Linked DNA regions of Homo sapiens: all the other regions are reported to be linked to region 1. Evidence: microRNA targets listed by miRTarBase, many of them from high-throughput screens and not tested one by one. Region 1 holds a microRNA gene; each other region holds the end of a gene's coding sequence.

Region 1 (3,236 bases):
CCTTCTTGTCTGCTCCCCCTCTTGAATCCTTGGAACCTAGGTGTGAGTGCTATTTCAGTGCAACACACCTATTCAAGGATTCAAAGAGGCTGAGCCTTGTCTACATGTAGAAGGACCAACAACCTGTCCCCTTCTTTCACATGTTTGTGTTTGCTATGCGGTGCCAGATCCTGCACTGGGTGGTGGAGATACAACGGTAAATAAGACAGCTAAGGTCCCTGGGCTCTGTAGAGGGCACCTGTGGGAGAATGAACTTCATCATTGCCCTGGACAAGCTTACACCTCTTTGAGAGCATGAGCTTTCTGTTTACTCCCAGCTTACTATGTGTCAGATACTGTAATGGGGAAACACACATTGGGTGATGAGACTTGCACAGCCAGTCTTTGCTCTCAGTGAGCTTATAGTTTACCAGAGAAACAGAAGAGAATGAAGTATCCCAATTTTCTGTACCATCTTCCAACATGTGCATGTACATGTGTGCCCACATACAGTTTGTCCCAACCTCCTTGCTAGGCCCCAAATACATCCAGCACCTGCAGACCCTCAAGTGTGATCTGAAAAAGATGCCACTCATATCTTTCATTCTAGTCTGAGGTTTTGTCTGAGAGGGCATGTCCATGTGGCCTTGTGCAGGGGGATGAATACATATGCTATCCCTGAGGAGAGGCATCTGTCTTAGCAAATGCACACAGAGATACTTTGCAGGAATGGGACCATGAAAGTCAAATATATATGGAGATATACATGCAGGGTGCAGGTGCCTGAGTCTTCTGCTCTGCTCTTCCTCTCTAATCCTTTGTCCCTGGGTGAGAGTGCTTTCTGAATGCAATGCACCCGGGCAAGGATTCTGAGAGGGTGAGCCCCCTCTGCGTGGAGAACAGAAGATCTGTATGTCACCTCTCAGCTGCTTGCTGCTTGCCTGCCTGCTCTCTGACCCTCATTCATTCTTTCCTTCCACAAATAATATGTATTGGGCACCATGATGGGCATTGGACACAGAGAAATGAACAAGGCAGACTTCGCCCCTGCCTTCCTGGATATTATAGCCTGAGAGGAGAATGGACTTTGTCACCACTCATTGCCCCTGCATATACTGAGGGTGAGTGGGCCACATAGGAACTTCTTATCTACCCTCTTCCCACCTTAACCCACCCATAAGTGTGAGTCTTCTCATTCCTGCTGTCACATTGATACTTGTTTCTTGTTTTTTCCTTCTTTCCTTCCTTCCTTCTTTTCTTTTTCTTTCTCTTTCTTTTCTTTCTTTCCTTCCTTTCCTTTCCTTTCTTTTCTTCTCTCTTTTCTTTTCTTTCTTTTTTGATGGAGTATTGCTCTGTTGCTCAGGCTGGAGTGCACTGGCACCATCACAGTTCACTGCAGCCTCAACCACCTGGGCTCAAGCGATCCTCCCACCTCAGCCTCTCAAATAGCTGGGACCACAGGCTTGTGCCACCATGCCTGGCTAATTTGTGTTTATTTTTTGTAGAGATGGGGTCTCACTATGTTGCCCAAGCTGGTCTCAAACTCCTAGGCTCAAGCAGTCCACCAGCCTTAGCCTCCCAAAGTGTTGGGATTATAGGTGTGAGCCACTGCACCCAGCCTGATACTTGTCGAAGCAACTTCTCTCTACTTTAGTTCAATGCAAGGTTAATGCACTAGGCAAGAACAGCAAGCCTTCTTGTTAGATGCACATGTGAGGTGTACAGGTACTGGAATCTCCTGTCCTGGTTCCCCCTCTCTAATCCTTGCTACCTGGGTGAGAGTGCTTTCTGAATGCAGTGCACCCAGGCAAGGATTCTGCAAGGGGGAGTGACATCTTCGCATAGGACAGAGCACTTCTACCTCCTCCTTCCATCCTTTCTATGACTATTTGTTGAGTACCTACCTACTCTATTGCAGGTGCTGTCCTGGGCAGTTGGCCCACAAGAGAATGAGCCATATCTGGTTCCCTACCTTCATGGAGTGTACAGTTCAGGGAGGAGAATGGACTCCTTCTCATTCATTATATCTGCATGTCCTGAGGGTGGGTGGGGTACAGGGTGGGTGGGGTACAGATACATGTTGGAGAATCTACTAAACCTCAGTACAATCACACATAAATACGCTGTGTGCAAGAGAAAGGGCCTGACTTGGTTACATCCACAGAGACATGTCCTCACAGAGTGGTCCCTCTGACCTGGTGCATCACTCACATTCTTTCAGCCTGTGTGCCAGTACTGCCTTGACTCACTGTCCCTTTTCAAGAATTCCAAGGGAAGAAGCCTTGTCTACACTTAAAAGGACAGAGCTTTTGCACATCAACTCTCCCTCCTCTTCCTTCCACAGATACTCAAGTGTCTATTAGACAGCAGGTATTATGTTCATCACCAAGGATATAGCAGGGATCAAAATGGACAGGTTGCTACCCTACATTCTGGTAGGGACTCATAAACACACTATACATAAATGTTGTGGATGAATAGGCCACTGTTCAAAAGAATGAAGTAGATCTATATGTTCCTTGTTACCCAGTCTGCATGCACAAGCATGTGCAGGTTCTGCTCAAGTGAAATTCTCAAATGTCCCCAATCCTTGTACACCAGACACACTCAGAGACATGGCCCTGCATGCAGAGAACCCCACCTACTGAAAGGGTAGGAGATGGAGCCTGTTGTGCTCTCCTCTCTCCCATTCTCAGCGTGCAAGCCAGTGAGCTTCCTTAACTCCCTTATAGATGGGGATTAAATGAGGGAAGTCTTCTTACTGCTACTTTCCTTCTTGCTGCTCTGTATAGGAGAGATCCTTTCATTACTTTTCTGTACAGTCACAGATGAACACACTATATGCGGTGAGCCTTCCCTGTAAACCCATGTGAGCACATGTGCACACACGCACACGTGCACACACACATACTCTGTATGGCTGCTTGGGCCTTCAGTCCTGTTCCCCCTCTTGAATCCTGGTACCTGGATGCAAGTGCTGTGTCAATGCGGTGCACCCAGGCAAGCATTCCACGGCTGAGCCTTTTCTGCATAGAGCGAAGAACACCTGTTTATAATCCCCATCCTTCATTCATTCCCACCTTTAACAAGCAGGGGTGGCGCTCCTGTCATGCACCAGACATGGAGAGACAGGGTGGTCAAGAAAGACACAGAACTCATACTCACATGCCTAGTGAGCATGTTTAAGAGAAGGAACTTCCGTTGCCCACATTGTTCATGCATACGTATGTAGCAGAGAGTGAGTCTTCCCATCATCC
Region 2 (3,236 bases), not on the chromosome of region 1:
CGCGGGCGCCCCGCCGAGGGCGCCCCACGGCCGCTCCCCCCGCGCCAACCCCGCGGCCAGCGCGGCCCACCCAGCAGCCAGGGAGCCGGAGGGGCGGCGGGCGGCGGCGGGGGCGGCTGAACTCGGCGAGCCGGGCGTTCCGGGATGGCGAGGTGCGCCTGGTGCGGCCCGCGGGCCTGAGCTCTGGCAGCGGGCGCGTGGAGGTGTTCGTGGGCGGACGCTGGGGCACCGTGTGCGACGACTCCTGGAACATCAGCGGCGCCGCCGTCGTGTGTCGCCAGCTGGGGTTTGCCTACGCCGTGCGCGCCGTCAAGAGAGCCGAGTTCGGCCAGGGCGGCTCGCTGCCCATTCTGCTGGACGATGTGCGCTGCGCGGGCTGGGAGCGGAACCTGCTGGAGTGCCAGCACAACGGCGTGGGCACCCACAACTGCGAGCACGACGAGGATGCGGGCGTCGTGTGCAGCCACCAGAACCCCGACCTGTAGGCAACACGCCGCTGCCCCAGGCCATCCCGCCGGCGGGGGAGCCTGGCAGGGGCCGCTCCGCCCTGTGTGCGCCCAGCGGGTGCACACGTGTTCTAGAGTGAAGGGGGTGCGGGTGTGTGCTGTCCTGGGGACATGTGTGAGGCGCTGCAGTGCATGTGTGTCCTCTGCAGACCCAAGGCAGGAGTGTGTGTTGGGGGCGGTGTGGGCTCTGGAAGTGCATGGTCCATCATGGGCGGGAGGAGTTCCTTTCTTACCTCCAAGCGTTTCAGACACCAGCAGGAACAGCAGCCGGGCTGTGGGACCCTGAGGAGGGAGGGCAGCCAGGCTTCGAGGACGGACATGGCCCCTGGCTGTGCTAACAGAGGCACAGCTTGCAGACTGAGGGCGGTGGGGAGAACCAGGCTTGTCCTGCCCACAGCTGGAATGGAAGGTGCAAGAACAGCCGGAGGGTGGCCTGAGGAATGTGGCCCGGACAGCATGGCCTGGTGCCCGCATCCCCCCCACCCCCTGGCAGTCAGAGGCGCTGGAGAGAACCGGAAGGCATCCAGTGGGGAAGGGAAAGCCTTCTGGAAGGTGGGAGCAGGGTGAGCTGCAGGCCTGGGGCCCCACTGGAGGGGCAGGCTGCGTGGAGGAGCCAGCACCTGCTCAGGGAGGATGGCTGTGAGGACTGGATGACCTCCAAGGCCGTATGCTGGAGAAGCCACTCAGCAGCATACTCAGTCCTTGTGGGTGCTCCTGGGATGGGACCAGCCTCCTCCAACCCTGAGGCCTGATTCTCTCTTGCTCTTGGGGCAGAAGCCACCCACACTAGCTGGGCAGAGCTTTCACCCTGGCCCTCCAGTGAGTCGGTGGGCCTCCACTACTTTCAAAGCTGTGTTTGGGCCCTGGGGCCACCTCTGTCCTTTCCATCCCCATCCCTGCTCAGTGTAAACCCAGGAGACCTGATTCCTCCAGCCCTACCTCGGGGCTGACCAGGCTGGGGGTCCAGTGAAACTACTGACACTTTTTCACCCAGGGCTATGCCAATAATGTGGCTGTTTACACACCACTTTCCTGCCTCCTCTCTGACCTGCACCTGTGTGGGAGCCGGGGTGGGAACCAGGAGAAAGGGGTGAGGCCTCCCGCTTCCCACCTGCATCACAGGTGGAAGCTCCTTCACTCCAGGGATGCTCGGCCCTGGCTCTGTGCCAGGCCGCAGAGGGGCACTTAGTATGACTGCGCTCAGCCTCGGATGGGAGCACGGGTGGGGGGTGGGTAAGCAGATGAGTCACCAGGCAGTGAAGACAGGATGTGGCCCATGTCGGGGGTTGGAAGAGGTCTGGGTGGGGCACCCAAACCCAACCTATGGGGGGGCTTTGGGAGGGGGTGATGCTGTGCCAAGTTCTGGGAGCTGGCACCAGGGGTGGCTGGGCAGGCCTTGGGGCAGGCATGAGTCTGGCAGGGTCTCCTAGCTGCTAGTATAGGGTCTCCTAGCCACTAGTATAGGATCCTGGGCTGCAGCAGAAAGCTTTAGGTCACTGTCTTGGACTCCTCATACTCTGTGCTTTACAGAATGGGAAACTGAGGCACACAGAGGTTAGATATCTTAGGGCACCAAGCCAGGGAAGGGAGAAGTCAAGTTTGAATACAGCAGCTTAGTTTAGAGTCCCCGCACCCTAACCACTGCCCTCCCCAGCTACACTATGCCTGCAGAGAGCGGTGTGCTGGGGCTCCTGCCTGGTGTGGGAGTGCCAGCCTGGCTGGGAAGCAGCTGATGGAGATCCCTGGGGGCTCCTCTTGCCTGGCAGGTGCCCCCGCTGCTGGCCTCATGCTCCTCTCGGGCCTCCAGTGGCCCAGGGGAGGTTGAGTGGGCATCTTCCTGGGATGCAGGGGAGTTCTGAGCTCTGACGCCGGGCGTGTTAGGAGATAGCAGGCCGTTAATGACCATCCCAGCCGAATTCCTCACTGTGCAGATGAGGAAGTGAGCTCAGGGAGGCTGAGTGTCCCAGGCCTGTTGCCAGATGAGGCCACGCTGAGACTGGAGCCAGGGAAGGTGCAGCAAGCCTTGAGGCCCTCAAGAATGCAGCCGAGCCAGGGCCCTGCTTGCCTGGCCCCAGAAGCTGTTTTGCTCAGAGCTGGATTAGGAGGGTTGGCAAAGGGAGCTCTGGGTGCGGCCTCAGGCCCTCCAGTACTTCTCTGGGCAGTTCGGGCTTTGGCCTTCAGTCTTCCAGGCCAGGCGCTCTTCCTCCCCAGCCTCCAACTCATCACCTCTCAGGCCCCAAACCAGGCCTGGGCTAGGCTGCAGCCTGCCTCCTGGGGACTCACTCCACAGTCCCCAGGTCAGTGGTCCCCAACCTTTTTGGCATCATGGACTGGTTTCATGTAAGACAATTTTTCCATGGATGGGGGTTGGGGGGATGGTTTTGGGATGAAATGTCCCACCTCAGATCATCAGGCATTAGATTCTCATAAGGAGTTCACAGCCTAGATCCCTCGCATGCACAGTTCATAGTAGGTTTCATGTTCCTATGCGGATCTAATGCCACTGCTGATCTGGCAGGAGGCAGAGCTCAGGTGGGAATGCTTGCTCCCCACACTACCCTGCCCCACTGCCACTCACCTCCTGCTGTGTGGCCCGGTTCCTAACAGGCCACCCATCAGTACTGGTCCGTGGCCCAGGGTTTGGAGACCTCTGCCCTAGGTAGTAATAAGAGTGGACAGCTGTTATATGTAAATACTTGTTCCCCGATGCTGGAAAGAAATAGCACTAAA
Region 3 (3,000 bases), not on the chromosome of region 1:
TTAATAGGAAGTAAAAGTCTTTCTGGCTTATGCTTAGTTATGTTTTATGACTAAAAATCTCAGTACTGGTGTAGTCTAATGGATGTTAATGTAAACTGGCTTTTTTTCTTGTCTGTGCATTTTTTGGGTAAGTGTTTAGTGGTTTAGCTAACTAAACTATGTATCATCCCAGTAAGCTGTAATGTGTTAGTAGCTATATTATCCTATTGAGATGGTATGGGCAACCCTTCATGTTCTCTTAGCTAGTTAGTGCCTGACAAGAGTGGAAGGTGGTGGTCTTAAGGAAGAAAGCGGCACAGGTAAACACAAGTGAAAACTGTTGTGTTTTTGAAGCAGATAAAAAGCAGAGACTTTTAGGCCTGGAATATTTTCTTACTACTCATTCATTTTAACGTTTACAAAGGAATATATCATTTCACTTAGGAAAATGACTACATTAATTCATACTTTGAAGATGGAGATGATTTTGGCGCAGACAGTGATGACAACATGGATGAGGCAACCTATTAGGCATGAAATTTTTCAAAAAATATTTTTATGATGCAGCTTCTGAACATTTGGACAGACTTGATTTGTATTTTATTTCTGATAAGGAATAAGTACTTGTTTCTGTTGTTTTGGACAAATAGTTGTTACCAAAATATTCAAAACCACTTTGAGTTTACATACTAGTTACCTTAAAAATTATTCCCTGACACTCTGACATTCCTTCTAAACACCTCTGCCATCTCTCTTATGTACTCTCATGGGTTTTTTTGTATGATTTGAATATGAATGTGCCTAAAGAATTTTTGCTCTCTTAATCTATGTATACATACTTGAACAAATCATTCTTGCTTAACTGCTGATCTTTTGTAAAACTATTGCTAGTCATAATGGATTTCTATAACCTGAAAGTTGATATAATACAGCACGTGGAGCACTTTAAAAACAAAGAAACTTGAAAATAATTTTATTTTTTACCTTTACATGGTGTGTTCTAGACTACTGCATTATGACTACATAAACCTACCTGAGCTCTTACAAGTACAGAATTGTGAGACAGAGGTTTTGTGATGGAAAACATACACATAGGGAAAAATACCAAACTGAGCAATATAAATTTCACAGCTCACATCTTAGCCAGTACAAAGAAACTTTCACATGGGGTGAATATTATAATACTTGAATTTGAGACTTAATACTGTATATGAATTAATCATCCCACTGTAATAACTGACATCTTCAAATAGTTGGGCTTATGAAAAATTTGACTAAGACATTTTATTTTATACTTTATGTAAATGTGAAATAAGTTCTGGTCATATAAATATGTAGAATGCATGTGTGTGAACTCTATGAAGTGAAGTGTGGTGGCCTTTTATGTTTCAGAGTACTCAAGTGTACAATTGATTTATATAAAAATGCAAAATGAACTCAGGTCATTTTGAAATTAATATTAATATTTTTGTTGTTTAACTTTAAAGCTAGCTCCCCTAACTTTATATATTTTTTGGGAAAAAATACCTAAAAACCTCAGCCTACAAAGACTCTCAGAAATGCCAAAGATTTTCAAGGAAATTCATATTATATATTTCAAAAATGATTTATCAATGTTATCTACCAAAAGAAATAATTTTATTTTTCCCCTTTGGGGAGATATTATCCTCTAATATGAGAATCAGATCCCTAGATTCTATTTCTACCTATACTATTAAACTCAACCTTGAACCTGAGCTTGGTTGTTTCTGTGCCTTAGTTTCTCCACTCGTAAACAATTTCCTATAAAAATTGTTTAAACACCAACCAAAATTTACCATATGTATTCATTCTCTTGCCTTAAAGATCACTTCTTAACTTACATTTGGCTCTCACCCTCTAAAAATTTGTAGTTTGGAGAGTAACTGAAAGCACAATTTTAAGAAACATGTTTTCCTCACAAAATATATTGTAATCTGATTTTCCTATCTTGTATTCATGCAGAAAATTGGAGAAAATGTGTATTGTCTTGTGCCATTCTGCAATATGAATTTCTCAGGAAAAAGATGTTTCAATGGCAATACTTTCTTAAATAATTCAAGATGGGTGTGAGGACCTATCTTATTAGTTTAGTGCTGTGTTAACCATTTGTGAATTACTTCTTGTTTAAAGGAAGTTGTCAAAAAATTTTAAGATTCTAAATGGAATACACGAATAAAGTAAGCCTTAGAATAGAAACCTCACAAAAAGTTGTCATTTGCGGTTGATAATTAACATAGGTGTTTTATTCTCTCAACTCCTTAGTACCAGAGCCAAATACAATTTAGTTTTCAGAAATCTTATCAATATTGTTCTATTTACCTACTTATAAATCTGCAGATAACCACTTGAACCAGGCAAATACACTGAAGATAAAGGTTATTTCTTTTTTTAGCTTTGAATTTGTCATGACCATTTTAGTCTTGCAGATAGCAGGGCAGCCCCTTGGGGCAAGGATTTACTCTGGGAGGTACCGTTAAGAGCCTTCTTTCCCCCTTTGAAAGATCCTTTTACAATGTTAAAGTATACTAGTTGCAAGAACAAGCAGGATTTGCAGGTTGCTTTACCAGCATGAGTCTCATTTTTCTGGCTTAAAATCTGGGACTGTGAAATTATTCCATAGGAAAGTGAATGTTATTTTGCAGAATTAGCCTCTTACATAAAAGTATTTGTTGAAGTGTCTTTAAAATTGCTATCATGAGCAAAACTGGTTGCTGTAATGCTTGTTTTTCTGTATTTATTTACACATTAAATTCTTACAAAACAAAATGTGTTCGTTTGTTTTATAGTAAGATGTTTTATTTTGAACTTATTTAAATGTTTATTTGTTAGAGAAAACTAATTTGTTAATATAGATCTTAACTAGTAACTATTAAGCAGGGATGTTTGTTCCAAATATTCTTGAATAAACAATCACCACAAACAACAAAACTCTGGTTAATGATTATTCAAAAAAGTTGTTGTGAGATGGGCATGCTGGTCTGTGCCTATAGTCCCAGCTAC
Region 4 (3,000 bases), not on the chromosome of region 1:
AGTGGAGATAAATTATCTACCAACTTTAAAAATCTAAACTTATGTTCACTGAACAAAAATAAATTTAGTTTCAGAACATTGCCTGTTAACGGCAAAGTACTATAAATAGTGCATGTTAAACTCTTCCCAACAACTCATTTCTATAAAATATTTGATTAAAAATAAAATGAGTGAAACATTCAATACAGAGGGGAAGACACGAACATCTTTTCAAATACAGAATAACTCACAGGAAATTTAAATAAAATCTAAATATTTTAAAAAATACCATACCAAAAAAGCCTCTAAGGTAGATTTGCCTCAAACATTTTAGTGCATTTAGAATAACTGTAGCTTCTTAGCATCAAAACCTTTGGGATATCAACTGTGCTCTTTAAGTCATGGCAAAATTATAATTTTACATTCTAGTATGTAATTATGAAAAAAATCTTTTCCATGTTTAAATTAAAATGCACCTTCACAACATCCATGGTCAGTTGTTAGAAAAAAATGCATTTGACAGAATACAGAGTTAATAAGCTGGTTTTAACAAGGGAGTTCTCTTTGTTTCATGAAAATTTTCATTTTCTATTTTGGGGTACTGCTTTTATCTGAAGAATAAAAATGGGAAAAAATAACCACAAAAACTTCCAAATGACAACCTGTTTCTTTCTGGCAACTGATAAATACTAAAGCCAAGTTACACACTTGGAAACTACTGCAGTAAAATGGATCTGAGCAGTCTGTGATTTAAACAACAATGTAACAGAATTGTAGAATTTTAAAGTACAAGATTTGACAAAGAAGAGAGTTCCAGTTTGGAGAAAGTGTCCTTGATGCTGCTCTTTAAACAATGCAGTAGCTTAGACTGGATGCTAAACTGCAAGAACTCATTACAGTGGCTTTCTAGCATCTGAAAGGGAAAGCAGAGATTCCATTAACTTGGCACTTGGGGGTTTTGTGGGTACATACCACCAATATTTCCCTTTCCTTTACTATTAGAGTTCTTTTTTGGTTAATAGATGCTTACTATTCTCTTTAAGATGCCAATTAGGGGCACATTCAACATATGAACAAAATTAAAAATAGAATTTTTGCAAAGTACACAGAAAAGAAACCAAGTTAGTAACAATGTATTTTATTGTTTGACCAAGCTCTCTTCAGAGTACGTGAGTTATTACACAATATAAAAACAATAGCCTCCTATTCAAAATGAATTACTCTATATTTAGTAAGTCTTATTTTTATAAACAAATTAAATGTCATGTTTAGATGCATTTTATATTCACTTCCACACCTTTTTATCCTTTCTTACTAAAGCGATGATTTAGTTTCTACACAGTTTCGTCACTGTACATGAAGACTGGTAAAACTGCAAATAAGAATTACAATTTGAAGTCACAGAAAATATTTTAAATGGCTAATTCTGAAGAGGAGACAAGAATCCATTTTGGACATGTTCTCAGTTTTGTAAATATGACTTCACTATCACATTCTCTCATGTGTTTCCATACCCACCTTTTCTTGGAAATTATGGGCAGAAAATGGATAGAAGGAAGGAAAAGGAATCTTGAGAAATTTGTTTGGAGGCTGCATTTTAATAATAAGGATGACTTCACTTTATCTCTTTGGTCATCAAAGGAATAGGAAGAATAAGAGATTCTCATTATAGTTATCCACCTCACCTAACAGTAATGATATCAGAATGAAGGATTTAAATGAAAGTCAAACTGACAGGGGAAAAAGGCATCTAGCACTCTAGTGTATTTACCTGTGAAAATAAAAATCCAGTGGAAAACTGACATGTGTTTAGACATTGAATAAACAAGTTATTTTAAATATTAAAAGAATTTTCAATTTCAAGTCTTAACTGTTTTACATTTCCTCTTGTGGAAAAAAGAAAATTTTTACTAAACTGAAATAGCTTTACTATTATCAGTTGAAATGAAACTACCGATTCAACTTAAGGAATGTGAACTAAATGATATTTCAATTAATAGCAATTTTTAAGGCAATTTCTGTACTAAACACTGAAATGAGTAGTAATAAATTCTGTAATTTATTCTACCATTTTGAAATATGGCAGAAATAACATCCAGTTCAATGCATATTGAAACATCAAAAGTATGGATAAGCCTTGAAGTTTTTATGGACCATAAATGTGAGAAATTCAAATGAACATCTTGTAAGATTATGACTGCACTCCAATTCTCCAATGTCGAAAGGAAAGGAAAAAAGAGACACCAATGTGTCTAACTGTTCTAATATATAAATGACCCTGACCAGATTTTTATGAAAAAAAGGGGAAATTTTATTCCACTGACAAATTTATATTCTATAAATATAATGTATAAGCCTTGAATTAGCAGACACTTTATTAGGGATGACCAAAACAAAAAACAAAAAAAACCAAACCACAAAAACAGCAAAACTAAGTAAAATATGACTATTTTCAATCAATGTTGGTTATGTTGCCCTCTTGCAAAATGACAGGCAAAATCATACTTGTTTTTACATTTGCATCCACATATATTACACTGAAAAGGATTTTCATACCCATGACATCCCATATGAATAGTGTAAAGGATGTTGTCTGCAAAGTACATATCACAGTGCTGGCAGTGGTGCAGAAGCTGAGGGTCCTGGACCGGCAGGGCTGGGGCTGGGGTGCTTGGCTGGCTGTTTCCTATGCTGGGAGTGCTCGTGTGGGCACTTGGCTCACTGCTTGGACCTGCCACTGGACTATAGTTCCTTTGACTATGGGATGGCCGAGGTTCTGGGCTTGTGGGAGAGGAGCTCTGAGGAATACTTGCTGATACGGCAGAAACTACTGCTTGGGTAGAGGGCTGCTGAATCATGAAAGGCTTTTCATCAGGGCAGGGAACTACATCAGGGGATGCAGGGTTTTGGTTTTCGGGTGGCAGACTGGACAACTGCCCTGCTAGAGTCGAGAGCTGATTCAAAGGGTTATCAACCATGAGTTCTTGGGGGTCCCTTGGAAGGCCACCAGTTGGTGTGGTT

Evidence for each region. The annotated mature microRNA hsa-miR-500b-5p reads AAUCCUUGCUACCUGGGU and lies in region 1 at 1,739-1,756, shown strand. An mRNA with a match to its seed (bases 2 to 7 or 8) in the 3' UTR can be bound and repressed. Matches are read on the target gene's strand: a 7mer-m8 pairs with bases 2 to 8, a 7mer-A1 pairs with bases 2 to 7 and ends in A, and an 8mer does both.
Region 2: miRTarBase lists HHIPL1 as a target of hsa-miR-500b-5p. The part of its 3' UTR that is shown has no 7-base or 8-base seed match.
Region 3: miRTarBase lists POLR3G as a target of hsa-miR-500b-5p. Seed matches in the 3' UTR shown: 7mer-m8 at 2,449-2,455.
Region 4: miRTarBase lists IKZF5 as a target of hsa-miR-500b-5p. Seed matches in the 3' UTR shown: 7mer-A1 at 1,282-1,288.

The regions. Positions count from the first base shown.
Region 1 is chrX:50,008,944-50,012,179 of GRCh38, forward strand. MIR500B (microRNA 500b) reads left to right here and starts at 1,729; the gene lies at 1,729-1,807. All of the region lies in intron 3 of CLCN5 (chloride voltage-gated channel 5), which reads left to right. It overlaps MIR501 (microRNA 501), which reads left to right and starts at 779; the gene lies at 779-862. MIR362 (microRNA 362) reads left to right here and starts at 21; the gene lies at 21-85.
Region 2 is chr14:99,675,142-99,678,377 of GRCh38, forward strand. It overlaps HHIPL1 (HHIP like 1), which reads left to right. Exons shown (of 9, transcript NM_001127258.3): 9 at 1-3,236. The coding sequence ends at 485. Among named protein-coding and RNA genes, the nearest start is that of CYP46A1, 7.5 kb to the right of the region's middle. RefSeq lists enhancers at 1-515, 1,079-1,642, 1,643-2,205.
Region 3 is chr5:90,511,630-90,514,629 of GRCh38, forward strand. POLR3G (RNA polymerase III subunit G) reads left to right here. Exons shown (of 8, transcript NM_006467.3): 8 at 424-2,928. The coding sequence ends at 510. Among named protein-coding and RNA genes, the nearest start is that of LYSMD3, 16 kb to the right of the region's middle.
Region 4 is chr10:122,991,345-122,994,344 of GRCh38, forward strand. IKZF5 (IKAROS family zinc finger 5) reads right to left here. Exons shown (of 5, transcript NM_001372123.1): 5 at 1-3,000. The coding sequence ends at 2,436. Among named protein-coding and RNA genes, the nearest start is that of PSTK, 12 kb to the left of the region's middle.